Regions from separate parts of the Homo sapiens genome. Here region 2 is linked to region 1. The links come from fine-mapping of genetic effects on gene expression. A gene starts in region 1. The other region holds a variant in brackets. All regions are shown on one strand. Distances are between the middles of the regions.

The links. PIP is the estimated chance that this variant, and not a neighbour inherited with it, causes the effect. A credible set is the group of variants that fine-mapping cannot tell apart.
Region 2: its variant is the best candidate, but not a certain one, in a credible set for the expression of GUCY2C-AS1 in whole blood (INTERVAL, PIP 0.80).

Annotation. Positions count from the first base shown.
Region 1 is chr12:14,656,072-14,672,461 of GRCh38, reverse strand. It overlaps GUCY2C-AS1 (GUCY2C antisense RNA 1), which reads right to left and starts at 6,826. Exons shown (of 6, transcript NR_186173.1): 1 at 6,765-6,826; 2 at 6,449-6,603; 3 at 4,316-4,433; 4 at 148-196. GUCY2C (guanylate cyclase 2C) reads left to right here. Exons shown (of 27, transcript NM_004963.4): 10 at 2,629-2,740; 11 at 11,400-11,481; 12 at 15,845-15,950.
Region 2 is chr12:14,522,980-14,539,369 of GRCh38, reverse strand. It overlaps PLBD1 (phospholipase B domain containing 1), which reads left to right. Exons shown (of 11, transcript NM_024829.6): 5 at 2,660-2,800; 6 at 3,567-3,711. It overlaps PLBD1-AS2 (PLBD1 antisense RNA 2), which reads right to left and starts at 9,231. Exons shown (of 5, transcript NR_187784.1): 1 at 9,129-9,231; 2 at 8,160-8,328; 3 at 3,470-3,785. The variant A/G (reference allele first, on the strand shown) is at 8,050.

The sequences.
Region 1 (16,390 bases):
ATTTGAACTCTCAGGAAAATCATTAAATGTGTAAACCTGAGCCCCACATAAACAGCCCTGTAATGCTATGCTTTTATTCATATTATATTCACTTTTTTTTCCTCACCCAATAGTAGGTTCTTTAAAGAAAATAAGTGGTCTACTCACCTCTCCATCTTTTCAGTGCATAGCTTCTTATCTGGCACACCATTGACGGCTGGTCAGCATTTAATCACAAACAAACAAAAACAAAACAAAAAAAACACCTGTCTTCATGTCATCCAATGTTGTATCCATCCAAACTATAAAAGCCACTGTTCCAGCCAACCAAGTGGTCAGTAAAAAGGTTTATATAGGAGGTCAGGTCCTGACATAACATAAAATTTATTCATTTTTTTTTCATTTTCCAATGTGAGTGTTATGACAGTCTAAGTCATATACTAAATGTGTACATCAACCCAGCTTTGTAAAAGATATCTGCAATGGAAAATGTGAAAAGCTAGAGAAAAGATGTCCACGTTGAGAAAGCTAAACCAGAAATTTGCTAGCAGCATTCCATAAATGTAATTCGTAGTTTCTAGATACTATATTGAACCTTCAATATAATGTTATGTTTCGCATACATTCCGTAAGAATACCTTAACATAAGATCCCATCAATACTTCAGTTACTAATAGCGATTACAAAGGTACATGCATTCCTCTCTGAGTTATTTGCATCTGGGATGATGCCCATGATCTTCACAGAGAGAGGCAGAAACGTGTGAGATCTAATGTCAGTCTCATAACTATACTTCAAAATGGAAAATGTTGCTCTGTGCATTTATTCTCTCTATAAGCAAATTCGGGTGAATTTTTCAATAATGTAGTACCATCGGTTGTGCTATATAACATGTATATTTGGGAAAATCAGAGATCTTCTCAAAATGTAAGGTTAAAGGGATGATAATCTATATCCAGGATAGGTCTCAACAGAGATTCAATATGCCACATCCTAACATAAAGGAAAAAGAAAGAAAGAGTAAAGTTATGAAAATGTAACATTGGGCAGGGTGCAGTGGCTCACCCCTGTATTCCCAGCACTTTTGGAGGCCGAGGCAGGCGGATCACTTGAGGTCAAGAGTTTGAGACCAGCCTGGCCAACGCGGTAAAACCCTGTCTCTACTAAAAATACAAAAATTAGCCGGGCATGGTGGTGCATGCCTGTAATTCCAGCTACTTGGGAGGCTGAGACAGGAGAGTCATTTGAACCTGGGAGGCAGAGGTTGCAGAAAGAAAATATAACTTTGCTGTCCAGAACATTTTGAGGGTACACTGGTAAATTTAAAAGGATGGTCACTGATATAGTTTGGCTGTGTCCCCACCGAAATCTCAACTTGAATTGTATCTCCCAGAATTCCCACGTGTTGTGGGAGGGACCAGGGGAGGTAATTGAATCACGGGGGCTGGTCTTTCCCATGCTAGTCTCGTGATAGTGAATAAGTATCACGAGATCTTACGGGTTTATCAGGGGTTTCCACTTTTGCTTCTTTCTCATTCTCTCTTGCTGCCACCATGTAAGAAGTGCCTTTCACCCTCCACCATGATTATGAGACCTCCCCAGTCATGTGGAACTGTAAGTCAAATTAAACCTCCTTTTCTTCCCCAAAAAAAAGAGAAAAAAAAAATTTTTTTCAGAGGTTTCATGGACTCCCCAGCGAGGCTGGGGAGGCCTCGCAATCATGGTGGAAGGTGAAAGGCACATCTTACATGGTAGCAGGCAAGAGAGAATGAGAGCCAAGTGAAAGGGGAAACCTCTTATAAAACCATCAGATCTCGTGAGACTTATTCACTACCACGAGAATAGCAGGGGAAAGACCGGTCCCATGATTCAATTACCTCTCCTGGGTCCCTCCTACAACACGTGGGAAGTCTGGGAGATACAATTCAAGTTGAGATTTTGGTGGGGACACAGCCAAACCATATCAGTCATCTTTCAGATCTCCCTTACAAAATTGACTCAATATATGCAGCAGTAATTTAAGGATATATTAATATTTCCATTGGCAAATGACTTGAAAATGAAATCTTTTATTTTAGAAACTAATTAATGTCATGTACAAGAAAAGCATATTAGAGCCAAGGAATAGAAGAGATTAGAAAATTAAGTAATGGATAGAAGTTAAGAAATGTAGTTATTTCAGGGCCCCTTGATATGTATCAAAATGACATAATGGATTTTAGCTCTGCTGCATTTTCTTGAGAGCTTTTTTCAAAAGCAACTTAATATTGTGGAAAACACTAGTCTTTCATTTATCATGTGACTTGGAGCTAGCCATTTAATATTTCTTAGCCTCTAGTTTAACATTTGAAAAATGAAATACTTGAACTGATTCACTAAAGGCCCACAGAATCTGTGCTGGACAGACAGGAGTTAATGGTGTAGTGTATGAGCATAAAGAAATAGGAAACTAATCGGTCCATCTGAAGTTATATCTGTGTTCATGCTGGGAATCAATAAATGATCCTAACTAGCTGGTTAACAGTTGCCTTTTTTCACTGAGAATTGTTATGGAAATCAAGCGTCATTGTGTAGAATCATTAATCTCACCATAATTTGTTCTATAATGTTTTACTGTTCATCCTTTTTCTTTTTTGTGCCCTGACACAGTACAAGGTTCTTTTGACCTATGATACCCACGTAAATAAGACCTATCCTGTGGATATGAGCCCCACATTCACTTGGAAGAACTCTAAACTTCCTAATGATATTACAGGCCGGGGTAAGATATCCCTAATGAATTTTCTCTCCCTGACACTGTTTTCCTGGTAAGAAAAGTAAAGTCTATTGTTTATGTAATTAGCCTGTGCTTTTTGCTGTGTTTTGTCTGCTGTCCCAGTTTGATTTCCTGCTGTCCAGTTTGTAAATGTGGTCCTTACTTCCCTGCACAATGAATGATATTATAGTTCTGATTCAACAGTGATTTCTGGCCAGGCATGGTGGCTTATGCCTGTAATCCCAGCACTTTGGGAGGCCAAGGCAGGAAGACTGCTTAAGCCTAAAAGTTTCAGACCAGCCTGGGCAACATGGTGAAACTCTGTCTCTACCAAAAATACTAAAAAAAAAAAAAAATTACCCAGGCATAGTGGCACACAGCCGTGTTCCCAGCTACTTGGGAGGCTGAGGTAGGAGGACCAGTTGAGCCCAGGAAGTTGAGGCTGCAATGAGCTATCTTTGTTCTACTGCACTCCAGCTGGGCAACAGAGTGAGATCCTGTCTCAAAAAAAAAAAAAGAAAAAGAAAAAAAAGGAAAGAAAGAAAACATTCTTATTCTAATTTAGCTATACCTATCTTTAAAATATGTCCTACCATTTGACATAAATTATTCCACAGAAAACCGGGTTTGACAACTGGCAAAAATGAGCACAGAGACATATATTCTTACTCCATTTACATTTTACTGCAATAAGCTAAAAGGTTGTGTATTTCAGCAAGAAATACTTGACATATCAGGCTGAGGGGTGACCAGTGATCCTGGCCTTTACAGTCTCCCCTGTTCCCATACTGGACACATATTTGGGTTGCAATGATAGTTACCCACCTACTTAAGATTAGGTCCTATCATGTCATGAATAGCCCTAACATGACTTGGCCAGCTTTCACCCGTGCAAGCTGCACACTCACCATCAGCAGCAGGCAGGGCCACTCAGGATCTCCTGGGCAACGAGGCCTCAGGACAATCTGTCCATGACTGGCTTGGCCAGGGCTTGCCATAATGAGTGGTAATTCCATGTGACTAGGAAAAATCTTTAAGAAAAAGTCTTAAATCTGGACAGATATTTAGCCCAAAGATTTAAAAAAAAAAAAAAAAGTAGAAATACCATCAATAAAATTATTTAGAGCCAAGCGTGGTGGCTCATGCCTGTAATCCCAGCACTTTGGGAGACTGAGGTGGGAGGATTGCTTGAGGCCAGAAGTTCAAGATAGCCTGGGCAACACAGTGAGATCCCATCTCTACAAACATTTATAAATTAAGGCTGGGAGTGGTGGCTCACGCCTGTAATCCCAGCACTTTGGGAGGCTGAAGTGGGTGGATAACGAGGTCAGCAGTTCGAGACCAGCCTGACCAACATGGTGAAACTCCGTTTCTACTAAAAATACAAAAATTAGCTGGGCATGATGGTGCGTGCCTATAATCCTAGCTACTCAGGAGGCTGAGGCAGGAGAATCGCTTGAACCCAGGAGGCAGAGGTTGTTGTAAGCCAAGATCACGCCACTGCACTCCAGCCTGGGGAACAGAGCAAGACTCCGTCTCAAAAATATATATATATAAATTAGTGGACATAGAGGTGCATACCTGTGGTCCCAGCTACTCAGGAGGCTGAGGTGGGAGGATCACTTGAGCCCAGTAAGTTGGGGCTGCAGTGAGCCATGATTGTGCCACTGCACTCCAGCCTGGATGACAGAGCAAGACCCTGCCTCAAAAAAAAAAAAAAAAAAAAAAGAAAATTATTATATATTCACAAATGGAGCATCAGGCAACCAATTAAAAATAATTATTTATGAAGAATGTTAAATGACATGGGAAAACTTATGATGTAAAGTAATAGAAAAGTACAGCTTCTTATTTAATGAGATTCTAACTTTGTAAAACAATGCATAGAAATAAGACTGGAAAGAAATATGTTAAACTGTTAAGAGTGGTGTCCTCTGACTGATGGGATCCTGCAAGATTTTTTTTGCTTTATTCTATTTTTCTGAATTTTCCAAAATTTCCACAATGACTCTGTATTAGTTTCTTATTTTCAAAAAGTATTAAAAATTATAAGCTACAAATATTTTTATACCAGCCCCGCTCTACAGCCAGAAACTCTGAAAATTTGATCTGATATAAAGGGAACATTTCTGGTTTGAAGGGCTTGCTTGTGTCAGAGCTATACCTGCGTTTCTAGTTTTCTTTCACTCCATGAGTCAAATTAAGTCCAAAATGATTCCTGTACTTTTATCCAACAGGTATTAGCAGCTGATTAACGAAATGAGGGAGGGGGGAATGAAGATGGCATTCTTCTAGACAATAAGCAATCCTGAGCTGACTTCAGATTTATTGCTATGATTGCTTTTTAAAGTCGAGTTTTATTTAATAAGCTTTTAAAACTTTCTGGAACCATCTTCAAGCTTTCTAGTTTTAAACCAAACTTGACTTCTGAAATATATCTCTTTTCTCATGGGCTTCTGCAACTCTCAACTTCTTTTGTAACTTTTTGAGTTCAAATTATTTTTTCTTTCTTCTTAATTATAACTGTCAGTGACAAAGTTAGGTTTGTGTTTTTAATGTATTTCCTTCAAGTTTTTTGGTATTTTGGTTATTCAATAGGTCTGTGATTTCTAAAGTGCTGAACTTCTCAAAAAGTACTTTTTGAGAGAGTTCTCTTTACTTAAAGAGAACTGACTTCCTCAATGGTTGAACTAGTTTACAGTCCCACCAACAGTGTAAAAGTGTTCCTAAAGTGAACATTAAATATTCATACTATATCCTACAGGGACGTTATATTATCCTGAGCAACTTTACTTCAGCCTCAGTTAACTAACAACCTCAGTTAGCCAGAGCTTTTCAATACTTAACTGTTACTTACTACATTTAGCTCTAAACTTTACCAATGAAGCAATAATATAGGAGTTAAAAAGAAATTATTTAGGCAGGTAGCGAGGGTACAGGAGTCCTCAGTAAGGCTTTTTCTTTTCTTTTCTTACTCTTTTTTTTTTTTTTTGGAGACATTGTCTGGCTGTATCACCCAGGCTGGAGTACAGTGGTGCAATCTTGGCTCACTGCAACCTCTGCCTCCCGGATTCAAGCGATTCTCCTGCCTCAGCCTCCCGAGTAGCTGGAATTACAGGTGTTTGCCGCCACGCCCGGCTAATTTTTGTATTTTTAGTAGAGACGGGGTTTCGCCATGTTGGGCTGGCTGGTCTGGAACTCCTGACCTCACGTGATCCGCCTGCCTCGGCCTCCCAAAGTTCTGAGATTACAGGCATGAGCCACGGCGCCCAGCCAGGCATTTTCTTTTAATTGAAAACAGTCTCCAAACCATTTCTTTTCTAGCAAAAAGCAGCCTGAAAAGCTGAACTGCAAGCATAAATAAGCAAGCTGGAAGCTTGCGTAGATGAATGCCCGCAGCTGTACTAAAAGCCAGGTCCACCCAATATAGCGATTTCCCCTCCCTTTTCTTTGTAGCCATGTGTGGGGGTGTCATTGTGCCGGCCGGGTAAAGCCACATGTGTGGGTGTCATGGCGCCAGCCAGGTAGAGGCCGCATTTGCATAATAAAAGATTAGGGTGAGAGGGCCAGTTTCTTCAGGGCTATGTAAATGGCACACTGGTCAAACCAATCCCCTGGGCCCTATATAAATCAGACACCGCCTCCTGAAGCCTCCCTATATAACCTACTGCTTCCCACCACAAGCATGGTTTTTTCCCTTCAGAGCCCTCCTACCTCTCTACCGGTGAGCTGTTCTCTTCTTTCCTGCCTATTAAACTTTCCGCTACTTGACCCGCTCCGTGTTTGCGTCTGTGTCCTTAATCTTCTCGTCACGCGATGACGAACCTTGGGTATGTCCCCAGACAATGAAGCCGCTTCAGCAACTCAACCTTTGAAATAGTATAGAAATACGATATGCATGACTGGAACTTGCATCTGTGTGTACACAGCTACTAAGTAACAAAACATTTCACCAAGAGATTACACCATCCCTGTTCTTTCATTTATTTAACAAAGATATTTATTTAATGCCAGACAATGTTCTGAGCACCTGGGAAATAGCAATGGACAATGCAGATTTGGTGCCCGTCCTCATCCAAGTCCTCAGCATCTGCTTCCTGTATCACAAAAATGACGTCAAACTGACTTCCTGCATTAGTCCTGCCCACTTCCATCCAACCCATCCTGCTATCAGAAAGAAAGCACAAGTCCAATCATGTCACTGCACTGTTGCTAACATGTCAATTGGCAACTCTGCTTTACCTACAGAATACAGTCCAAGTTACTTAATACAGCACAAAGTGCCCGTAATCTCCCTACTTATCTTTTACTCACCTATCCCTTCCCCATGCTCTCAGCTTCCTCCCTACTTCCTTAAAGCGTCATGCAAATTTATGCCGCTGTGTCCTTATTTATGCTACTCCCTCGGAATAGAATTTATCACTTCTCCATAGAGGTGGGAAACATCTACTCATCCTCAAGATTTAACCGGAATCTCAACTTTCCTTAGCTTTTTTTTTTTTTTTTTTTCCTGAGACGGAGCCTCGCAGTGTTGCCCGGCCTGGAGTGCAGTGGCCCAATCTCGGCTCACTGCAACTTCCGCCTCCCAGGTTCAAGAGATTCTCCTGCCTCAGCCTTCCAAGTAGCTGGAACTGATTACAGGCACCTGCCACCGCGGCCGGCTAATTTTTATGTTTTTAGTGGAGACGGGGTTTCACCATGTTGGCCAGGCTGGTCTCGAACTCCTGACCTCGTGATCCACCCGCCTTGGCTTCCCAAAGTGCTGGGATTACAGGTGTGAGACACCGCGCCCCCTCAGGGCTTATTCTTATTCATATTTCCTTGCCCCAACACAGTGCCTTGGAATGAATAAATGAATGAATGAATGAATGAATGAATGACAACATGAGATAACTGAATATATTTCTACTCTGGACTCCAGCACTCATCTATACTCTGTTAATTTCAGTCAATTTATTTCTCTTTTCTAAGTGTGAGTTTCTTCCCCTGTTAAATCAAGAAGTTTATCAGGTTCCTTCCAACCGTAATATCATATGACCTTGAGGTTATAAACTCTCATTCATTGTGAGATGAGTTAAATAGAATGTGATAACTACAGCAGCCACCAGAAGGCAGCAGAAGCTTAACCTTGGAATTTAGAACTTGATACTGCGTTTATCTAAAAGGCAAAACTGAAAAGCATGTTTAATTAAAAATGACTACATTTAAATAGTATATTTAAATACTATATATAAATATTATAATTATATCTAATACAGTGAGATGTTCATACTGTAGGAGGCAGAGAATTGAGGTGGGCTGAGGAGTCCCCATATTCCCTCCAGTTTATACTCTAGTCTAGGGGATGTGCAATTTTGATAGACCAGTGAGTGGGATTATCTACACTGTTGAAAATGTATTTCTTGTACTCACTTTCGTTTTCTGGGGTTTAGGGCGTGAGAATGGTGGGAGTGGCAATAGTGGTGATAGTGATGGAAGTGGTGATTGTAGTAACAAACAGAATTCACCAGTTAAATGTGCCCATAATGCAAGTTCAACTCCAAAGTATGAATTTATTTCTGCCCCGATGAGAGTAGAAATCCAAAGTTCACATTTTCACCATTGAAAATTTCCCATGAACACAAAACAAGGTAATAGAGGCAAAGTCACATGTCTGCAAAGCATAAACCCTTCAAATTCAGCCCTTATACAAAGGAGCTGTAGTGTTTACCCCAAGCTAAACCATCTACTTCAGAAGGACATAATATGATTAAACAAAAACAGTTTTAAAATACATATGACATGAGACCCCTAATGGCACAGGAGTCTTTCTATATGAATTTATTTATGTATTTTAATGTCCAAGCACCTTCTCCTTGCCTCTTCTCAGGCAATAAGATGACCAGGGCCAGGTTTTTCTTCTATTATTTTTTATTAGCCATTTTTATTGATACTTTACCAGGTCTTGTGCTGGGTGCCAAAGGTGTAAGGATGAACAGGAATGAATAAGTAGGACATGGACTGTGCCCCCAGGAGTTTAGATTATGGTGTCATGATAGAGAATACAGTGTGAAGGTTTAGGATTCTGCTTTCATAAAGAAGTCCTAAAACCTCATTTTCGGGGCACCTACATCAATTATATTTTAGCACAGAAAAATTCACACATGGCTGGGCACAGTGGCTCACGCCTGTAATCCCAGCACTTTGGGAGACCAAGGTGGGCTGATCACCTGAGGTCAGGAGTTCGAGACCAGCCTGGCCAACGTGATGAAACCCCACCTCTACTAAAAATACAAAAAATTAGCTGGACATGGTGGCGTGCGCCTGTAATCCCAGATACTTGGGAGGCTGAGGCAGGAGAATCTTTGAACCTGGAGGGTGGAGGTTGCGGTGAGCCGAGATCGTGCCATTGCATGCCAGCCTGGGCAAAAAGAGCAAAACTCTGTCTCAGAAAAATAAAAAGAAAAATTCACACACATGATTTTAAAATCCAGTAGCAGATGTGTTCATAATGGAAAGTGAATGCACCTGATCCCACCTCTGTGCATCTCTGCTCTCTCAGTCACTTCTGCTTTTACTGTTTTGCATATCTAAATAATATGCTTCTATTTCTTGATTTATAAGCTTTAGCAGTTATCTATTAATTTTTTGTATTGATACATGAAGATTTAGCTCATCTTCGCTAGCCCTCTTTCTCACTTCTTCCCATATAGTTATATCTTTTTTGTCGGTACAATTATTGAACACCTTTTTCATTTTAATTAATATGCATGAGCTTCTAGTGTTGTCCTATCAATTGTATATAAAATATCTTGCCTCCCACTTTGTAAGATGAAGATGTTAGTGCCACAATTCTTTCTTCTACCTCCTTCCCATCTCCAAAATTCTCCTATATTTTTCTTTGCCAGGGTTGATAATATTTATTTGGTAACCAAAATAAAGACCTCTGTTCTTTACCTATAACTTGATTCTATAAGTTGAAAACAAGGAAACATTTTCATTATGTGAATATTATTTATATAAAGCTAAATTGTATACCGTGATAACATCTTTCTTTTTTTTTTTTTTTTTTTGAGACGGAGTCTCATTGTGTCGCCCAGGCTGGAGAGCAGTGGTGCAATCTTGGCTCACTACAACCTCCACCTCCCGGGTTCAAGCGATTCTCCTGCTTCAGCCTCCCGAATAGCTGGGATTACAGGCACCCACCACCACGGCCAGATAATTTTTTGTATTTTTAGTAGAGATGGGGTTTTGCCATGTTGGCTAGGCTGGTCTTGATCTCCTGACCTCAGGTGATCGGCCCCTCAGCCCCCCCAAAGTGCTGGGATTACAGGTATGAGCCACCGCACCCGGCCAACATCTTTCTATATAGCCCCAATGTCTCCCTTTTGTACCACAAAGGAAAATTGATTTTCTCTCCTTTTTTAATACCTAATTCTCAAAGTCAGGGCACATTTTACTTTGTTTCATTTTTGGATTATGCCTTCCTTGAACATTTTTTCCTTAGAATTCCTGATTGGATTTCTCTTTTCTTTCCTTGCTGTATAAAGAAACATGTCTTCTTCACCATACTCCTATCACTTCCCAGCTTCTTACACATTCTGTCTATTGCTTGGAATCTATTCCATTTTTTCTTCTTGAACCTACTGACTTCCTAATAGGGAATTCATTGCGGCATATATGAACCACGACTTTCCCGTGCAGTCTTCTTGTTGCTGTCCTTCTCTGTGTAGGAGTATTCCTTTGTATACTCAGACACTGCTTCAGTGCTTCCTTGGGTTGGATCCACATTTTCCTGGATTCCACTTACTCTTCTGAGAGTCTTTCCACTTACTCCATCTATACAACTCCACCCACCCACTAGTGTTCTAGTAAATAAAATCCCATTCTTCATTGACTTCCCTCACTAACCCAGGAGAGCTTGGAAAGAACCAGCATGCAACACTGTCACTTAATATTCTATACTGACTTACTTTTCTTCCGGCATGTGCTCTGTATTTAAAAACAAGTTGTCTTAGTTGGGTATGGTGGCTCATGCCTGTAATCCCAGCACTTTGGGAGACTGAGGTTGGCGGATCGCTTGAGGCCGGGAGTTCATGGCCAGCAACATGGCGAAACCCCATTTCTACAAAAAATACAAAAATTATCCGGGCATGGTGGCGCACACCTGTAATCCCAGCTTCTCGGGAGGCTAAAGCAGGAGAATCACTTGAACCAGGGAGGCAGAGGTTGCAGTGAGCCAAGACTGCGCCACTGCACTCCAGCCTGGATGACAGAGTGAAACTCTGTCTCAAAAAGAAAAAAAAATACATGTCTCATCCTCTATGAACCCTTCTTAGGTATATTGGTTTCAAGGACACCAGGTAGACTTCTACCACCAACTTTTTTGTACGTGCTCTAAACTATTTTATGTTTGTGTAACATTTGGTGATTCTTATTAGAAAGAATAGAGATGTATATGCTGTCAGAATAGCCAAAATTAAGCCACTTTCCCTGGGTACAATGCCAGACAAGGCTGTCAGAGAGTAGGGACACAGGACTTATATTACCAGAGAGAAATTAATAAAAAATAAATTTTTTTAAAGGGTTCTCTTTTCCCTTCCCCAAATTACATTGTACAGCTAGAATCTTGGAAATGCTTTTGCTCTCTTGTCTAAGGTCCTTCCTAACGCATTTTCCGCCACAGGCCCTCAGATCCTGATGATTGCAGTCTTCACCCTCACTGGAGCTGTGGTGCTGCTCCTGCTCGTCGCTCTCCTGATGCTCAGGTACAGCCGCCTCTATCATGCCTGTGTTCGGTATCCAGAGAGGCAGGAAGGGAAAGTGGGAGAGGTCTGTTGTCTGTTGATGATGATGAATATTCACAAAGAAGCCTGCAGACTGACCTAAGATAATGAAGACATTCTGCATCAAAGACTAACTGAAGGGCAGAATATTATTGAGTGAATAGATTAGGGCTTTGAAGCCAAAGATGCCTGAACTCAAATCCCAGTTCTTTGAGTTACTAGTTCTGTGGTCTTAAGCGTGTTACTTAGCAACTTAAACAGGTAACTTAGCTTCAGTTTCTTCATCTGAGCTGTTGTAAGGATTAGAAATGGAACATGTATACAAACTACCATATAATAAGCATATATAGATAAAATAGTTATTTTTATTATGCTGTTATATTGTGGGAGACATCAAACTCATTAAATTACATATTTAGACTGGGAGAGGTTTTAGAAACAATTTATTCCAAATCTCCTATTTTAGCCTGAGGAAAGAGAACCCAGAAAGTCAAATGGCTTCTCTAGAGTCTTATCACCAGGTAGTGGGTGGGGCCAGAACTAGAACTCAAGCCTTCTCACCATCAGTTCCATGATTTTTCTGCTCAACTTGGGTCTGCCAAATGCCTAGCCAGAGACATTGTGTGTACTAAGAAATATTTATTGAATACATAAATGAGTGAGTAAATACCACACTACATCCTAATCTGCATATGTTAAATGCCAAACTTATAATACTGTATTATATTACCAGGTTCACTTGCACTTCCTAGCTAAACAAGACAACAGTTTTATCTGTGTATTACACACTTTGGTCTGTGTGTCATTATACTTTCTCATGTGAATGTCCAGCCTGCCATATACTGGTTGATGTTTTCTCCAGAAAAGGAAGTAGACTATTTTCTTCAATCTGACAACACCGCTTGGCTCCTGTAACTGTGTTGCTCAGAAATACAGGTGATGGTCTACAATGTGTGGTGACCATTTAGTGAAGAGTGAGAAGAAACCAAAATTTTCCCCCAAAAGCAAATCTAAATGGGAATCACTTTAAGATAGGGTAAATCACAAGATCAAAGATAATAACAGGTGTTTCTCATTGTCTCTAAACATGGCAGGCAGAGATGGGGCTTCCTAATGACCAGTGCAATGCTATGCCCATGAGGGGGCCTGGCAGACAGGTGGTACACATGCAGTTTGCCATTACAACAGCCTATGCAAGAAAACTAGCAAACCATTTAAGAAATCCCCTAATTCAGTATGAATGACAGTTGGCTCTGCTGGGTCCCAAGAGTCTCCTGGGGTACAGAGCTGAGAACCCAAGAGCCTTTAAGGTCTTGATATTCATCCTACTTGCCTCCAGGTCTTAGGGTCAGTAATATGCTATTTTACATGCATTTACTTGAAGAATACTCAGACTTAGATGGAAGCATACAAAGAGAATAATCATTTCTGCTTAGGGGACATTAAGGAAGGCATGGCCTTGAGAAGGTGAGAATGAGTTTGTCAAATAACCAAAAAGCAAAGGCAAACAGGGACAAAACAGGTCAATAGAAAAGAATATCAGTTCCAGAATCAGATACAAGCAAGAACTTATAATATGACAAAGATGACAGTATGTGACAGCTAAGAAATAATGTTGGTGGCCGAACACAGTGGCTCACACCTGTAATCCCAGCACTTTGGAAGGCCGAGGTGGCTGAATCATGAGGTCAGGAGTTCAAGACCAGCCTGGCCAACATGGTGAAACTCCATCTCTACTAAAAATACAAAAAATTAGCTGGGCATGGTGGCAGGTGCCTGTAATCCCAGCTACTCAGGAGGCTGAGGCAGGAAGATCTTGAACCCGGGAGGCGGAGGTTGCAGTGAGCAGAGATCGCACCACTGCACTCCAGCCTGGGCAACAGAGCAAGACTCCGTCTCAAAAAAAAAAAAAGAAAGAAATGATGTTGGTAAGGTAGGCTTTCCACATGTAAAAAACAAAATTAAAACAGGTAACTTAGCTTCAATTTCTTCATCTGAGCTGTTGTAGGGATTAGAAATGGAACATGCACACAAACTACCATATACTAAGCATTATATAAATGAAAATAGTTATTTTTATTATTATATTGTATTATGTTGTATTTTATTATTATTATATATCTAAAATAATACACAAAGACATAGTTTACTCTGTGGAGTTTTAAATGTTAATGCATAGTTTATGTGGAGTTTTAAATGTTTTAAATGTTTGATTATGTGAAAATCAAGCTTCAAAACTTAGAATAAATTAATAAAAATGACTTTTTAAAATTATTTTTATTTTTTTGAGACCGAGTCTCACTCTGTCACTCAGGCTGGAGTGCAGTGGCGCCATCTTGGCTCACTGCAACCTCCACCTCCTGGGTTCAAGCAATTCTCGTGCCTTGGCCTCACTAGTAGGTACAATTACAGGCGTGTACCACCACACCTGGCTAACTTTTGTATTTTTAGTAGAGATAGGGTTTCGCCACGTTGGCCAGCCTGGTCTCAACTCCTGACCTCTAGTGATCCACCCACCTTGGCCTCCCAATGTACTGGGATTATAGGTGTGAGCCACTGTGCCTGTCCAATAAAAATGACTTTATGATCTCAGTTTAGGAAAGTAGTTCTCAGTCAAGATAAAAAAGGAAAAGTCAAAGAAAAAATACATAAATATGACGATAATAAAATCAAAACTTTCTGTAAAACAAAGTTAAAGGAAGTCATAAACTAGGAAAAGGTATTTGAAAACTAAAGGGACAAAGGATTTATTTCTCAAAATATATTAAGAACTTATGTAAGTTAACAAGGATAAGAAAAATATACACACTAGGAAAAAATGAGCAAAATTATAAATACATAATTCTATATAATTCTGAGTCTATATACTCTATTAAATAGCTAGAAAATATTTGAAAGGATAATATCACTTGTAATCAAGAAAATGCAAAGTAATGCAATAATGAAACACTGTTTCACCTTCATCATAAAGGTTAAAAAAAAGTTTATCAATACCAAATGTTGACAAGAATATAGAAAATGGGAATTCTCAAGATAAGAAGGTAAATTAATTGATAACTACTGCTTTGGGAAGCAATTTGGTGATATCTGCAAAGTCGAAAGTGTACATCGTCTATAGCCCAAGAATTCTGCTTCATCTATACCAGCAGTCCCCGACCTTTTGACACCAGGGACTGGTTTCATGGAAAACAATTTTTGGGGGTGGGGAGAGTTTTGAGATGAAACTGTTCCACCTCAGATCATCAGGCATTAGTTAGATTCTCATAAGGATAAGGAGTGCACAACCTGGATCCCTCACATGTGCAGTTCTCAATAGGGTTCGCGGTCCTGTGAGAATCTAACGCCACCACTGATGTGACAGGAGGTGGAGCTCAGGTGGTAATACTGACCTCTCACCTCCTGCTGTGCAGCTTGGTTCCTAACAGGCTACGGACCAGTACCAGTCCATGGCCCAGGGGTTGGGGGCCTAATCCCCAACCTACACTATCTGGGGACCGATACTATCTGAAGGAAACTATACATTTTTAACATTTTGTAGTTGAGATAGGTGTTGTTACATTTTCTCTGTACTTTTCCATTTTCTTTAAACATATTTTTTGAAAAGGCACAGATGGGTAAGAGGAACTGGCTTATTTAGGGATCTGGTGTATTCTCTCTGGATTAAAAATTAACATTTTTGCCTCTCAATGTCACCAACTTTACATTTTTTTCCTGTATTTTTTCCTCACTCCTTCTATGTCATCAGTTTAAATCCTTTAGTATTGTGAAGGACTGCCTTAGTGAAAAACCTAGGAAAGTGAAGTGAAAAGAAAAGAAAGACTAGGAAACAGGGGTCCCCAAACCCCAGTCCATGGCCTGTTAGGAACCAACCGCACAGCAGGAGGTGAGCAGCGGGTGAGCGAGCGGTACCGCCTGAGCTCCCCCTGCTGTCGGATCAGTCAGGGCATTAGATTGTCATAGGAGCGTGAACCCTACTGTGAACTGCGCATGCAGGGGATCTATGTTGCACACTCCTTATGAGAATCTAATGCCTGATCTGAGGTGGAACAGTTTCATCCTGAAACCACTCCCTGCCACCTCCATGGAAACATTGTCTTCCAGGAAACCAGTCCGTGGTGTCAAAAACGTTGAGGGCCACCGCTATAAAAGCCCATCAGAAATCCTTGCAGGTCCACTGGCAGTAAGCGCTTTTCAGTTTGGAGGACATGGTGTTCTGTCATTGGGCTACCTTCCCTCACACATATCTACCTGAGCATACCAGGGTTCTAAACTTCACCCAGTCTTCAGAAGCTGAATGACATGGATATTAATAAAAACCTATTGACCAGTTTTATTCCTTTCACAGAAAATATAGAAAAGATTATGAACTTCGTCAGAAAAAATGGTCCCACATTCCTCCTGAAAATATCTTTCCTCTGGAGACCAATGAGACCAATCATGTTAGCCTCAAGGTAAAGCCTACCTTACCTGTTGAAGAATGGGTTCAATTTGGCAGGTATTTGACAAGACTTAAGTAGCATTGCAGGATATGTGCCAAGTAGGGATAGTTGTTCTAGAAAGCAAGACTTAGATGCTTTCTAATTTTCAGCTCTCTCCCTTCCCCTTGATTCTCCATTCTCCTACATGTCAACTAGTTAATCCAATGAGCACTTCCCTGGAGGCTGAGATATGGTGTGTTCTCGTTCTTTGCATCTTATCCAGAATAGAAATACACATATTGGGAATTTGCCATGGAAGGGATGTAGGAATGGGCAGAGCATTTGAGTTCCCCTAAACCTTGGATGCTAATCTATCCATACTAAGGGCCTATGACTTGTCTTACTCATTCCTGAAGAAAGAGGCCTCTGCTTATATTTGCTCACATTTACCTTCAACCAGGAAATAGCAGCAG
Region 2 (16,390 bases), 130 kb after region 1:
AATTTAGCATAGTGGTGACCGCTGGCGGGAAAGGAGAGAGATGAGATTGGAGACTTCCAAGGCACTGCTAATGTTCCATTTCGTAAACTGTGAGTTGACTACATCAGTGTTTATTTATTTTTCCTTAAATGGTATGTATACATCTTTATTCTTTCAGATGTATAATATCATCTGTCCTCACTCTTCTAAGCAGTGTTCCAATGTATGGATGTATTATACAGTATAACAAAAGAAATGCAAATATCAATTACAATGGGATACTGTTTTGCACCTATGAGATTGGAAATAAACTAAATGTTTAATATGTTGTTGAGGATGGAAGAGTTTTATTTATTTATTTATTTATTTAGAGACAGAGCCTCGCGATATCACCCAGGCTGGAGGGCAGTGGTTGATCTCAGCTGCAACCTCCGCCTCCTGGACTCAAGCAATTCTCGTGCCTCAGCCTCTTGAGTAGCTGGGATTACAAGCATGCGCCACCATGCCCGGCTAATTTTTGTATTTTTAATAGAGATGGGGTTTCACCGTGTTAGCCAGGCTGGTCTCGAACTCCTGACCTCAGGTGATTCACTGGACTCGGCCTCCCAAAATGCCGGGATTACAGGCATAAGCCACTGTGCCCGGCCAGAAGAGTATAATTTAAACAATTCGTATGAGGACAATTTGGCAATATCTATTAAAATCTAAATCACTTCTAGGAATTTATCCTACACATAGACTCAAACACAAGCAAAATGAAGCGTCCAAGATTAATTATTGTGGCATTGTTTACAATATCAAAAGACTAGAAACCACTTGAAAATTCATCAAAAAAGAGTAGTTAAAAATATTATAATACATCCGTACGTTGGAATGCTGCTTAGGAGAGTGAAGACAGGCTGGGTGCAGTGGCTGACACCTGCAATCCCAGCACTTTGGGAGGCCAAGGTGGGTGGATCACCTGAGGTCAGGAGTTCTAGACCAGCCTAGCCAACATGGTGAAACCCCATCTCTACAAAAAACTACAAAAATTAGCTGGACATGGGGCGGGCACCTGTAATCCCAGCTATTTGGGAAGCCAAGGCAGGAGATTTGCTTGAACTCAGGATGCGGAGGTTGCAGTGAGCTGAGATCGCGCCATTGCACTCCAGCCTGGGCAACTAGAGTGAAACTCTGTCTCAAAAATAAATAAATAAATAAATAATAATTAAAAAAAGAAGAGTGAGGACAATTTTTACATCCAATATAAAAATATCCCCAAAACATTAAATGAAAGATACTAAGACAAAAAAAATCAAGGTGAACAACAGCACATATGACACACTACCATGTATGTTTTTAAAAATTTTATTTACAAGACATTTTTAAAACTCTGGATCCAAGATCACAGTGCCAGTAGGGAAAAATAAAAAAATCAAAAAACTCTGGCAGTATATGCAAAAAAACTAGTAAAAATGATTAACTAGAAATGGTAGTACCTGAGAAAATGGAGAACAGGTAAAGGAGGAGACTTTCTGATATAAACTTTGTTATAATTTTTTTTAAATCTTGACTAATAAATGAATAATTTATTCAAACAAACAAAACAGAGATGATATTTATATAAATAAAAATTGGATTGAATTTTTGCTTTGGTTTTAGTTTTTTGGTTAAAATGTCATTTGTGTTTGTCTTCCCACCACCTCTACCCCAAAACCAATTTGCTGATGCCTAACCCGGACCTGCTCCAGCAGATTGAATCTTCCTGGAGCCGTGCTCTCCAGTTTGCACAAAGTTCATGTTCAAGTACAATCTGATAATTGCTTCAAAGTCAATGCTGGCTGGTCAGTTAGTCTTATAGTAAACACACAATCAAAACCAAAAGCATCTTAGTTGAATGTTTTTGCTGTATAGCAGTGGTTCTTGTCTAAGAGTGGTTTTCTCTCCAGAGGACACTTGGCAAAGTCTTGGAGATATTTTTGGTTGCCACAACTGTGAAGTTGCTGCTGGTACCTAGTGGGTAGAGGCCAGGGATGACGCTAAACATCTCACAACGCACAACAACTGAAAAGAAAGTATCGGCCAGCTCAAAATGTCAATAGTGCCAAGGTTGAGAAGCACTGCTGTAGAGTGCAAACAGAAAGCTCTGTTTTACTCTCCAAGGAGCCACTCCCAAATTCTGGGGCTATCAAAACATGCCAAAACAGCTCTTTTAAACTATAAAGCCATAACAATTATTTTATAAGCTACAATAAAAATCTAGCGTACCTGTTAAATTAGAGACTCTTCGAAAATAAATAACTTTTTTTTTTTTTTTTTTTTTGAGATGCGGTCTCGCTCTGTTGCCCAGGCTGGAGTGCTGTGGTGCGATCTTGGCTCACTGCAACCTCCGCCTCCTGGGTTCAAGCGATTCTCCTGCCTCAGCCTCCTGAGTAGCTGGGACTACAGGCGCCCGCCACCACGCCCAACTAATTTTTGTATTTTCAGTAGAGACAGGGTTTTGCTGTGTTGGCCAGGCTGGTCTCAAACCCCTCACCTCGGGAGATCCACCCGCGTTGGCCTCCCAAAGTGCTGGGATTACAGGCGTGAGCCACCATGCACAGCCTGCAAGGGAATAATTTAATGGGTCCCTAACAAGAGGAAAACAGGAAATGATGTCTGTCACAAAACGATGTTAAGTGCAGTCTTTGTCCTTTCCTAGCCAATGACCCTGTTCCAGATTCAGTTCCTGAATAGTGTTGGAGATCTATTGGATCTGATTCCCTCACTCTCTCCCACAAAAAACGGCAGCCTAAAGGTTTTTAAGAGATGGGACATGGGACATTGCTCCGCTCTTATCAAGGTAAGACATAGCAGCTCCTTTTGCCTTGTTCTGGTTCATACAGACTTTTTCTATATAGCGCCCAAGTATAGCAACATCTCATCACCCCTGGCTATAACTGTATATCAGCTCATGAGTTCTTCAATGGTAGAAGTTAAGAACTGGAAGTAACTTTGATGGAGAGAATTGTAAGTACACGATGTTACATCTGTTCTTCCACCATTCCTCCCATGCTGTATGCACCTGCCACTCCCACCTTCTAGAATCTTCCATTTTGTTTTGTTTTGTTTTTGAGCCGGAGTCTCACTTTGTTGCCCAGGCTGGAGTGCAGTGGTGTGAGCTTGCCTCACTGCAACCTCTGCCTCCCAGGTTCAAGCGATTCTCCTGCCTCAGCTTCCCGAGTAGCTGGGACTACATGGGTGTGCCACCATGCCTGGTTAATTTTTCTTGTATTTTTGGTTTAGACAGGGTTTCACCATTTTGGCCAGGCTTGTCTCAAACTCCTGACCTCAAGTGATCCGCCTGCCTTGGCCTCCCAAAGTGCTAGGATTTCGAGCGTAAGCCACCATGCCCAGCTGGAGTCTTCCATTTTGAATGTTAGAAGGAAGAGTCTGTTTGGGGCCACATTAAAGGTTAATCTTGACTCCTTGGCCATATTTTCCAATAATCAGTATAGCAATAAACACTTACCTGAAATGGCACAATCCCTGTATGCCTCTTACACTTAAGACAATTGCAGTCAGTTAGCTATGTACATCTGTGTAATCCACTATGATTCTGGCTGTAGGTTCTTCCTGGATTTGAGAACATCCTTTTTGCTCACTCAAGCTGGTACACGTATGCAGCCATGCTCAGGATATATAAACACTGGGACTTCAACGTCATAGATAAAGATACCAGCAGTAGTCGCCTCTCTTTCAGCAGTTACCCAGGTAAATGAATTTAAAGGAACATCTGAGCACTTTGAGTACTATTCCTGGATAAAACCTTAGTGATTCAGTGTTAACTGCAATGGGAGAAGAAATGTTTAATGGTTAGTATATATTAACAAACAATCTGATTTTCAGAGGGCTTTTGAAGAAATATAGCTCAAATACTTTTATTTAATAGAATGACATAAACAAGGTTACTAGAATTGCCAAATAGAAGACACTTTGTAAATGTAAATGGCTACATCTAAATTTATTTCAACAAATGCCAACTGAGTATGTATCAAGTACAAGACTCTTTGCTAGGCTCTGCGGCAGAAGCAATGAAGACATGGCTGATCCTGCACTCAGGTACCACCTTGAGGGCGTGTAGTGTTTCTTTTATTTACTGCACTATCCACAGCACTTAACCTCAGTGTGTGGCATTGAGTACTTAATAAATTGCCAAATGAATGGATGAATGAATGTGTAAGTTTATAAACCTTACACTATACTCAAGAGGACAATATAAAGTGTAATATGAATAAGAGTAATAATATTACTGGATACTGTATGTGCTACAAAAGAAGTGTAACCAGTGTTGTCCATTCCAAGGAGGTGAGACTCACATCTGATTGTTGGGGAAAGAGAGGACAACCTTTGAGATAGACCATGAACATGGCTATCTCAAAGTGGCTAGAATTTGAAAGGATGGCTAGAATTTGAAAAAGTAGAGATGGACGGGAGGACAGTCCCAGTAGAGGAGAGGCTGCAAATTCCTGGGCCTAAATGCAATAGGCAGGTGAGGTAAATGAATAAAGCAGGACTGGTTTAAGAAAACAGTGGAGGCCAGGTGCTCACGCCTATAATCCCAACACTTTGGGAGGCCAAGGTGGGCGGATCACGAGGTCAGGAGATTGAGACCATCCTGGCTAACACAGTGAACCCTGTCTCTACTAAAAATACAAAAAATTAGCCAGGCGTGGTGGCGGGCGCCTGTAGTCGCAGCTACTCTGGAGGCTGAGGCGAGAGAATGGCGTGAACCCGGGAGGCGGAGCTTGCAGTGAGCGGAGATCACTCCACTGCACTCCAGCCTGGGCGACAGAGCGAGACTCCGTCTCAAAAAAAAAAAAAAAAAAGAAAAGAAAAGAGAAAGTGGAAACAATGGTAGCAAACATATGACCCACAGAAAGGAGGCAAGGATGAGCTCTCACTGTCTGTTCTCCATCCAAGAATTTCCAGACCCTCCAACTTAAGATAAAACTATGTATTTAAAACAACAAAACTCACTCTGTGAATCCAACAAAGCATGTGTGTTAGCATGTGTTAGCCCCAACCTCCTCAGGAAACATTATGAGCAAAGTCAAGGGGAAAACACCAAACATCTAAGGGTTCAACTGGATACACTGTAACCAGTTTGACCTTTAATTACGCATCCGTAACTTATGGGGTGGTTATACCAACCACCTGTCATATCTATCTACCTTTGTCGGAGTATTTTGCTCTTCCTATCAGAAATTCCTTTTTATTTTTAAAGTCAGGGTCTCACCCTATCGCCCCAGGCTGGAGTGTAGCGGTACAATGTTAGCCCACTGCAGCTTTGACCTTCAGGGCTCAAATGATCCTCTTGCCTCAGCCTCCCAAGTAGTTGACACTACAGGCACACATCACCATGCCTGACTAATTTTTTAAAAAATGTTTTATGGAGATGGGATCTTGCTACATTCCCCAGGCTGGTCTTAAGCTCCTGGGTTCAAGTGGTCCTCCAGCCTCAGCCTCCCAAAGTGCTGGGATTAAGGTGTGAGCAATCATGTCCGGCCCCTATCAGGAATTCTGACCAAGGGCATAACCCAGTATTTCTCTGTCCTTGTGACCTGATCCTTTCTTTGAAACCAATTTGATTTCATCTTTGTCTTAGTTTGCTTAGTTGTTTTAGCATTGAGGGGGACTGGGGACTCCTCTCTCTGAGTTAGACTGTGCTTTGATTCTTTCACATTCTATTACACTGACATTTAAGGACAGCAAGAGACAGAGCAGTCCAGTATTCTTCCTCTTCCTCATCTTTGTGATAAAATGCAATATTCAGATGTTATGTGCACTGCTTTGAAATCTCTGTGGAATACAATGCTCTCCAGTAGTGTTAACAGTCCTGGATCCCAGAGGTAGTGATGGAGAAGGTCATGGAAGATTTTCTTATGAAACGTATAATCCTGTTAACATTTGCATATGTATCCTTCCAGATGAGATACACAAGTAGATTTCATAGATAATATGTAGAGCTTTTTGGAGCAATTGAATCTCCAAGAGAGCAACAGACAGTTTTATATATACCCCAAAACATTTTTACAGGAGCCAATGGAACAGTGGGATTCATATTTTCTCTAACTGGGCAGCTTTGTTCTCAGCACCAAACAGGAAAACATGTGCAGTCTCATTTATGTTACAACTTATTTTATTAAGGGACCAGCCACATTGGATTCATCCAGTAGACATGACATAGAACTATGCTTTACGATGAAGCTCATGCCATCTTAGCTGCTGAGTCCAGAACAAAGCTGGATGGCTTCCTTGTTTTTCTTTGATGGAGTTGTTTAACAGGCTTGGTCTTTTTTAGTCTTTTCTAAAATACAAAGTGGAGATTGAGGAAATTATTTCACCTAAAGAGGCTAACATGCAATACCCAGGGAAGGTCAAAAGTATACCAAAGTATACCAGGTGCTGATAACCTCAGTACCACCCTTAGGTCTGGGCACAGGAACCCCACCCTCCCAGCTTGGAATTACCTTCATGAAAATTACCTAAATCCCCCTCCAGCATCCTGAGACTGGCCAGGCTGGCAGTATCTTGACCTGTGTCTCTGTGCATCTAGTTTAGAAAGCTCCTTTCCAGAAAATTTCAAAATCCCCTTCTAGTGCCCAAGACTGACCAAGGTGGCAGAGCCATCCAGGTCAGCTTCTCTGAGTCCAGAAAGCAACGCATGTGGACTCCCTATCTGGGGGCTCTTCTCCTCCATTCCTGCCCACGCATGGGTTCAACAAGATGCCCTAAGGAGCTCTGGGACTCAAGCCTATGGCCTGGTCCTGGTAAGCAGATTCCTCTAGTTGGCCCTCACAGTATATATTTTTTGCAAGATGGTGCATAACTGAGCTGTCAGAACGGTGGTCACACGATGACCTGGGGTGACTCTCATGTCAGAGCATATGTTCAGGGCTCTATGCTACTGAAAACCACCTCTTACCCTCGGGTTTCAGCATGCAGCAGGGGAGGACGGTAAAGCGAACTTCGACCTATGAGCTCCACATCTGGCCCCTGTCGTGGCCTCCTCACCCCTGCAGCTCTGTACCATGTGTCGGTCAGTCCTTGGGGCGGGCTAGGCCTGGCCCCTCTGAGGCCTTTTGAGAACCTTGCTCCACAACACAAACGGGCCTTTGCAGCAAATCTTTTGCTGCAGTTGGTGATGTGACTTCCTACTGTCTTGGGTCAGTCTTAAGCCAGATGGATTTTTCTGGTGTGATTGGGACAGCTCTTCCAGCTCGACTTATAGGCTTCTCACCTATCCTACCCACTGGTGCCCGTGGGTGAGGAGTGAAGGTGGGGGAGGGTTCAGCATGAAAAGAGATTTGACTCATGAAGACTTGACTTAAATTGTGAAGCCTTAAATTATGAAAACTTTACTTAAATTTTCCTGGGGCTTTTAGCCTGTTCTTTTATCTTTTTATGTACCTACTTTCAAATACATGCACTTAACATTTAAACAGGCTAAGCAGGCTCATGCCTGTAATCCCAGCAATTTAGGAGGCCAGGGTGGGCGGATTATCTTGAGCTCAGGAGTTTGAGACCTGGGCAACATGGCAAGAGCCCGTCTCTGCAAAAATACAAAAAAATCAGCCGAGTGTTGGTAGCTCATGCCTGTAATCCCAGCTATTTGGGAGGCTGAGGCTGAAGAACAGCTTGAGCCCTGGAAGCAGAGGTTGCAGGGAGCCGAGATAGCACCACTGCACTTCAGCTTGGGGGACAGAGTGAGGCCTCGTCTCAAGAACAACAACAAAGAGATTACATTCTAGGGAGGCAGCAATTAGCCTGAAGAGTCCAACAGAAAACATGTCGATCTATGTTTACACTGTAAAATTCCCAGTGTAGCTTTAGTAACCATAAAACAAATTATCATTCACAATTTTTTTAACACTCTGGGTAAGGCTTGCATTTGTGGTCATCATTAACAAAGCATAATAAGGATTTTTGAGTCATTAGAAGCCAGGATTCACAGGTAGAGTGGTAGATGTCGCAAAGTCATTAAGAAAATGGTGTTAGGGAACTGCAGAGGCAAGGAGATCTGTGTTGTTTCAAAACAAACAGGTTCCA[A/G]AAAGTCATGGTTTTGTAATAACAGTATTGCTACCTTTTTCTCATAACAAAAAATAGGAAATTAGCCAAGAACAATGCATTTAATAATAAAGAATACAAAGAGATGGTACCTGGATACTGTAACAAATCTTCACGTGCACTGATTGGACAATAGACAAAACAGATTGCCTTTCTCTGCCCATCATCCTAAATCTTCAATGATAAATCATCATATCTCACATGTACTGATGAATTTTTAAATATATGTTTTTAATCAAATTGTTTATATAGGCAGGGGCCCTGTTAAAAAAGACAAACAAACAACAACAAAACAACAACAACAACAAAAAACACTTGCCTGAGGCACTGGATACCCAAAGGAAAGTGGCTTTGAATGGCCTTGTTCTAGGAGTTTCTGTCCCTAACAAGAAGGGTTTTGAATACATGGTCTGTTTGCCTAGTAACAGCTAAGGCTGAGTAAGGAATGGAGAAGCCTTGCACTAGCCCTCCCCACACATTTACTTATTTTGGCAATGCAAATTAATAATCAAGGAGGTAAGACAAAGAGATAAATCACTAGAAAATGACGGCACTGAAATGGCAGCCAATACAATTGTGTGAAGACCTCAGCACAAAGATCTGATAGTTTTAACCAATCCAGAGAAAATTTACTTGTCAACAACATTGAGTCTTCCAATCTACTAATATAATCTATTTGTTTATTTCAGTCTTTAATTTGAGTCATATCATGTAGTTTTCAGTATTTAGGTCTTACATACCTTTAAGTAAGTTAAATCCTAAGTAATGTTTGATGCTACTGTAATCAAAATGTTTTTTATTCTTTTTTCAGTTGTTTGTTGCTCATATGTATTTATTGGTTACCCATTGCCACATAACAAATTGCTCCAAACATTAGTGGCTAAAAACAATAATGATTTAGTTACTCATGGTTTCTGTGGATCAGGAATTTAGATAGGGCACAGTGGGGATAATTTGTCTCTACTGTGACTGGGGCCTCAGCTGGAAGACTCAATGACTGAGGGGCTAAAATCTCTGATAGCTTAACTGAGACTGGAACATGCACTTCCAAAACGACTTACTAACATAGCTGACAGGGTGGTGCTGGCAACTGGTTCCTCTTCACTTGGGCCTCTCCTCAGAACTGCTTGAATGTCCTTCATGGCAAGACCCCTGGCTCCAGACGAAGCCATCCAAAAGAACAAGGCAGAAATAGTAATGCCTATTGTGACCTCACCTCAGACGTCACACACGCTCACTTCCACCAGGTTCTATTAATTAGAAGCAAGGTGTTATGACCAGCCCACATTCAAGGAAAGGCGATTAGAATCCACCTTTTAAAGAGAAGGGTGCCAAAGAATTTGTGGAAATTTGAAAACTACCACAATGTATTACGATTTTTTTGTACATTATTATCCTGAGATCTTTCTAATAGCTTTTTTGTAGATTCCTTGGGATTTTCTATATATACAATCATGACATCTCTAAATAAAGACAGTTTGACTTCTTCCATCCCTTGTATGTCTTTGATTGTTTTTTTGTATGATTGTGCTGGAGAAGACCTCCAGAATAATGGAGACCATAAGTGGTGAGCATGCAAATCCTTGCCCAATTCCTGACCTAGGGTGAAAAGTATTGTCTTTCACCATTAAGTATGATGTTAACTGCAGATTTTTTGTAGATGCCCTTTATAATGTTAAGGAAGGTCCCTGCTCTTCCTACTTTCTTTAATATTTTTATCAATAAATGAGTGTTGCATTTTTCTGAATTCTTTCTCAGCAATTGTTGAAAAGATCATATGAATTTTTTCCTTTATTAATATGATAAGTTACATTGATTGATTTTCAGATGTTAAACCACTTGAAATTCCTGGGTTAATCCTCAGTCATGATGTGTTATTCTCTGTATTTATTTTTAGTTCAGTTTACTAACGTGTTAATGATTTTTTTCATTTACATTCATGAGACATATTTGTTTGTAGTCTGCTTTTCTTATGATGGTTTTTGTTTTAGGATAAGCTTATCCTCATATCCTAAATGTGGAATTATTTCTTTCTCCTAAGTGTTTTAAGAGCATGTATATGATTAGTGTTATTTTATTCTATTTATTTATTTATTTATTTATTTTTAAAGACAGGGTCTCACTCTGTCCCCCAGGCTGGAGTACAGTGGTGTGAACATAGCTCACTGCAGCCTCAAACACCTAGGCTCAAGTGATCCTCCTGCCTTGGTTTCCCAAAATGCTGAGATTACAGGTGTGAGCCACTGTGCCCAGCCCATTTTCTTCTTTAAGTGTTTAATAGAATTCACGCGTGAAGCTAGATATGAAGGTTTTTATTTGTTGAAAAGTTATTAATTGTAAATTTAATTTCTTTCACTGCTACAGAACTATTTCAGTTTTCTAACTCTTCTTGAGTTAGTTTTAAAAATGTATCTTTCAAGGAATTTATCCCTTCTTTCTAAGTTATTGTTTTTATTGATATGAAGCTATTTATAATGTTTTTCTTAACCTCTTAATGTCTGTAGGATCTGTAAAGTCCCCATTATCATTCATGATATTGTCCATTTTTCTTCTTTATTAAGATAAAATTTCCATTTTTATATTTATTTTCTTTCTTCTACTTACTTTGCATTTAATTTGTAATTTTTTCTAGCTTCTTAATGTAGAAGACTAGATAACTGATTTTGATCTTTCTATCATAAGCAAATAAAATGATAAATTTTCCAATAAGCACTACTTTTGGTGCATCTGACAAATTTTGGTATATTTTGTGTTCATTTTTATTCCATTTAGAATATTTTCTAATTTATCACGATTTATTTAATCCATAGCTTATTTGGAAGTGTATTGTTTAATTTCCAAAAATTTACAGATTTTTCAGATCTTTGTCACTGTTTTCCAATTTAATTGCATTTTCTAATTTATTCTGAGATCAGAGAGCATATTCTGTATGATTTCAAATTTTTTTAACTTTATTGAGACCTGTGTTATGGCTCAGCATGAGTCTATCTCAATGAATGTTTCATATGCAGTAGAAAATAATGTAAATTCTAGTACTTCTGAGTGTAGTGTTCTGTAAATGTCAGTCAGTGCAAGTTAATTGATAGTGTAATTCAAGTCATCTATACTCTTAACTGATTTTCTATTTGTTAATCATTTACTACAAAAGAAATATTTATACCTCCACTATAATTATTAATTTGTCTGTTTCTCATTTTCTTATCTTTTTTCTCTAATCCCATGGCAGATTATATTTCTCATTTCATTTCTGGTAGTTTTGCTTTATGCATTTTGATACTCTATCATTTAGCACATACATTCATAAGTATGGTATATTCCTACTATATTGACCCTTTTATCATTATGAAACGTCTTTTTTTTTTGTCTCTAGTACAACTCCTTGCCTTAATGTCTACATTGTCTTATATTAATATAACCACTCCAGCTTTCTTATGCTTACTGTTTTCATCTTGTACTTTTCCTGTCTGTTTACTTTCTTTTTTTTTTGTCATTTCATACCAGCAATTTTATTTACACAGAAATAACATACAGGTATCTGTTATAAATGTCAGAGATCATCTCTACATTTCAGATCTTGATTCAGTTTAAGGGCCAATAAAGGAAGGTTCTTTTCTTTCCATTAAGTTTCTTGCCTTTGTTTTTTGTTGTACAAAGTGTGTAGTACTAGCAACTGCATTACCATAGCATGTCTTTAATTTTCAATTTGAAATCTTATGTGCTGGAGGAAAGTGCATCGTAAGTTTTTGTTTTTGTTTTTTTTCACCTTACAAATTCAAAAGACTAGAATAACGGTAGTCATCTGGAAAAAGTAAATCATGGATAGATATAATTTTGAAGCTGATGCTTAATGATGGCAGTGATTTTTAAGTGTGGTAACAAACGTTTTGGGAGCATGTATCCTCTGTCAAGATGGTACTAGTAACAGATTCAAAGTAGCACAATATCATATCAGACTGATGTGGGTTTTTTTATGTTTGAGATCAGTTGGTGACCCTGTTGTTCTTTAGTAAATTGGTGCCATAAGCTAAAGTTAGCATATTCATATTTTCCCTGCCAAAAGTCCTTCACAAATAACTGGTCATAAACTGAAAAAAAATTAATATCTGCAATATAAATGTGTTGTCTATTAGAGATGGGGCTAGATGTCTTAAGGATTTCTAAGTATATCTTAAAATTTATACGGTAGTAGTTCATACCAAGAATCATCTGGGGAATTTTAACAAAATATATATATGTTCTAAACCTCATCACTTCCCCATAAATGCAGCTTAAGTCTGTAAGTCTGAAGGCGTATGTGTATGTTGGGTGTTTTTCTTTTTTCTTTTATTTTGAGATGGAGTTTCGCTCTTGTTGCCAAGGCTGGAGTGCAATGGTGCAATCTTAGCTCACTGCAACTTCCACCTCCCGGGTTCAAGTGATTCTCCTGCCTCATCCTCCCGAGTAGCTGGGATTACAGGCATGCGCCACCACGCCCGGCCAATTTTGTATTTTTAGTAGAGATGGGGTTTCTTCATGTTGGTCAAGCTGGTCTCCAACTCGTGACCTCAGGTGATCTGCCTGCCTCGGCCTCCCAAAGTGCTGGGATTACAGACGTGACCCACCATGCCCGGCCTTGGATGTTTTTCTTTCAGCTCCTCCAGTACTTTCATATTATTCTAATATATTTTGTTGGTATGAAGCTATGAAGCAAAAGTCGCTATTACCAATGCATACATACAGTATACTGGTTTTAAGTTCCACCTCAGAGTGAATCTTAGAGCCTAGTGTAAGTGCTCCACTTTAGAGATGTACCTTAATTACTACTGTATTTGCAAATTAAGGGAAATTTAGGTCATCATTTGATTTTCTAAAACCTAAAAGGAACTGGCCATCATTACCAAGTCTTTCTAGATAATCAAGGGTAGATGGCTGTTTTTAATGTAGCAATTAATGTAGGCATTCCTGCTTTCGGGTTTAAGTATGAATCAAAGCATATTTTAATTTGTTAGCACAAACGGAATGTCTGTTTACTTTCAAACTATTTGTGGTTTTGTGTTTGTTGTATGTCTTTTGTAGACAGATAATTAGTACATTTTGCTTTCTTTTCAATCAAGTTTGACAGTCTCTTACTTTTGATGGAAGTGTTTGGGTCATTTACATTTACTGTAAATATTTATATATTTAGATTTAAGTCTGCCATTTCACTATTTAGTTCATTTCATCTCTATTTTGTTTCTCTGTTCCTCCTTTCCTGTCTTTTTTTGTGTTAAACATTTTAACAAAGGTTTTATAACAAAATATTCTATATTTTAATAAGTTGGCTTTCTAGCTATATTTATTTGCATTTTTAAAATTGTTGTCCCTGGGGCTTGTGATATGCATCTTTAACTCATCACAATTTGCATAAAGTTAATAAGCAATTATGTCTGCTAAAAAATATATAGGAACTTAAAATGGTAATTATCCCATTTAGTGCCTTCCATCCTTTGTGCTATTGTTGTCATATATATGCTCCATCTATATATGTTATAAATACACCAATATGGTGTTATGATTTTTTACTTAAAAACTTACTGTCTTTTAAAAAATTAAAACAAGTGTGTGTGTGCGTGTGTGTGTGTGTGTGTGTGTGTGTGTGTGTTGAGAAGTAAGCTGTTAAGTATATTATTTTCCTCTCTAATTTTTTTCTGCATTTAGATTTTTGGTGACTTCAGCTTTGTCGTGGGCTAGCTCTGGTCTTCTTTGTGATTATTGTATTTTAAGTTTGTTGTGCTGGTAGGAACTGCAAATTAATGTTTTTCATTAAATGTAAGGGTTTTTCACCAGTTATAGCTTCACATATTTTTTCCATCCTCTTTTCTCTCTCTTCTCCCTCTGGGACTCCAGTCATTTATCCATCAGATGCTAAACATTTTTGCACAAGTCTTTGGGGCTTTGTAAATTTTATTTAGTTTTCTTTTTCTCTCTGTTCTTCAGATTGGATGATTCCCATTAATCTTCTATCTTCAGGTTTTCTTTGTTTTATTTTTTGTTTATTTTATTTTATTTATTTATTTATTTTGAGATGAAGTTTCACTATTGTTGCCCAGGATGGAGTTCAGTGATGCGATCTCAGTTCACTGCAACCTCCACCTCCCAGGTTCAAGCGATTCTCCTGCCTCAGCCTCCCAAGTAGCTGGGATTATAGGCATGCACCACTACACTGGGCTAATCTTGTATTTTTAGTAGAGATGAAGTTTCACCATGTTGGCCAGGCTGGTTTCCAACTCCTGACCTCAGGTGATCCACCCGCCTTGGCCTCCCAAAGTGCTGGGATTACAGGCGTGAGCCACCATGCCCAGCCACAATCTTCAGGTTTTCTAATTCCTTCTTCTGCCATCTCAAATTTACTGTTGAAGTATACAGTGAGTTTTTCATTTCATTTACTGTACTTTTCAGATCTAGAATTTCAATTTTGTTCTTTCTTTAATTTCTAATTTTATGTTGAGATTCCCTCTCTGGTAACTCTTAAAACCATATTTTCCTGTTTTGTCTTTGTCCGCTAAACCCAATATCAAGACCTACTTGGAAACAGTTTCCAGTGACTTAAGTGTGGGGTCGTACCTTCCTTTTTCTTTTGAGGTGACAAATATAGCAAATACCATGACTTGATCATTACACAATGTATATACATATTTAGTATATTCTTCACCGCAAACATTTATCAGTTCCTTATGGCAAGAACGTTCAAAATCCTCTTTTATAGTTATTTTGAAATATGTAACACAATATTGTTAACTGTAGTGCCTGGTAATTTTTGGTTGAAATGTGGACTTGAAAAATAGCACACCATAGTGTCTCTGAAATGTGTATTTTTGAGAATTATGTTTTATTTTATTTTTAAATGACATATAATTGTACATATTTATAGGGGACAGTGTGATGTTTTGATGCATGTATACATTGTGTAGTGAACAAATCATGGTATTTAGAATATTCATCACTTCAAACATTTATCACTTTCTAATGGTAAGGACATTCAAAAATCTCTCTTCTAGTTATTTAAAATATATAATATAGTATTGTTAACTATAGTAAGCCTACTGTGCAATAGAATACCGCAACTTTCTCCTTCTATCTAACTGTAATTTTGTACCTGTTGATTAAGCCCTTTCCACCTTGCCTACCCTCCCCAGCTGCTGGTAAGCATTGTTCTTCTCTATACTTGTATGAGATCGGCTTTTATAGATTCCACATCTGAGTGAGATTGTGGAGTATTTGTCTTTCTGTGCCTGGCTTATTTCATTTAACATAATGCCCTCAGGGCTCATCCACATTGCTACACATGACATAATTTGATCCTTTTTATGGCTGAATAGTATTCCATTATATGTATATGTATCATATTTTCTTTATCCATTCATCTGTTGATAGCCATTTAGGTTGATTCCATATCTTGACTATTGTGAATAGTGCTGCAATAAGCATGAGAGTGTGGATATCTCTTTAACATACTTATTTCATTTCCTTTGGATAAATACCCAGCAAGGGGTCTAGTTTCATTCCTCTCCATGTAGATACCCAGTTTTCCAAGCACCATTTATCAAAGAGAATTTTTTCCAATGTGTGTTCTTAGTGTCTTTGTCAAAAATCAATTAGCTGTAAGTGTGTGAATTTATTTCTGTATTTTTTATTCTGTCTTATTAGTATATATGTCTATTTTTATGCCAGTACTATGCTGTTTTGGTTATTATAACTTTGTAGTATATTTTGAAGCCAGGTAGTGTGATGTTTCCAGCTTTGTTCTTTTTGCTCAAGATTGCTTTGACTATTTGGGGTCTTTTGAGGTTCCATACACATTTAAAGATTTTTTTCTCTTTCTATGAAGAATGTCATTGGTATTTTGATAGAGATTGCACTGAATCTGTCAATTGCTTTGATTAGTATGGACATTTTTTTAAAAATTCCTCAAATCCGTAAACATGGAATATCTTTCCATTTGTATCCTCTTCATTTCTTATGTCAATATTTTATAGGTTTCATCATAGAGATCTTTCACCCGCTTAGTTAAGTGTTTGTTTTTGTAGCTGTAGTAAATGGAATTGCCTTCTTATTTTTTTCTGATTGTCTGCTATTGTCATATAGAAATGCTATAGATTTTTGTATATTGATTTTATATCCTGCAACTGTACTCAATTTACTTATTAGTTCTAACAGTATTTTGGTGAAGTTTTCAGGGTTTTCCCTGTATAAGATTATGTCATTTGGAAGCAGGGACAGTTTGATTTCTGCCTTTTCAATTTGGATGCTCTTTTTGTCTTTCTCTTGCCTGATTGCTTTGGCTAGAACCTCCAGTATTATGTTA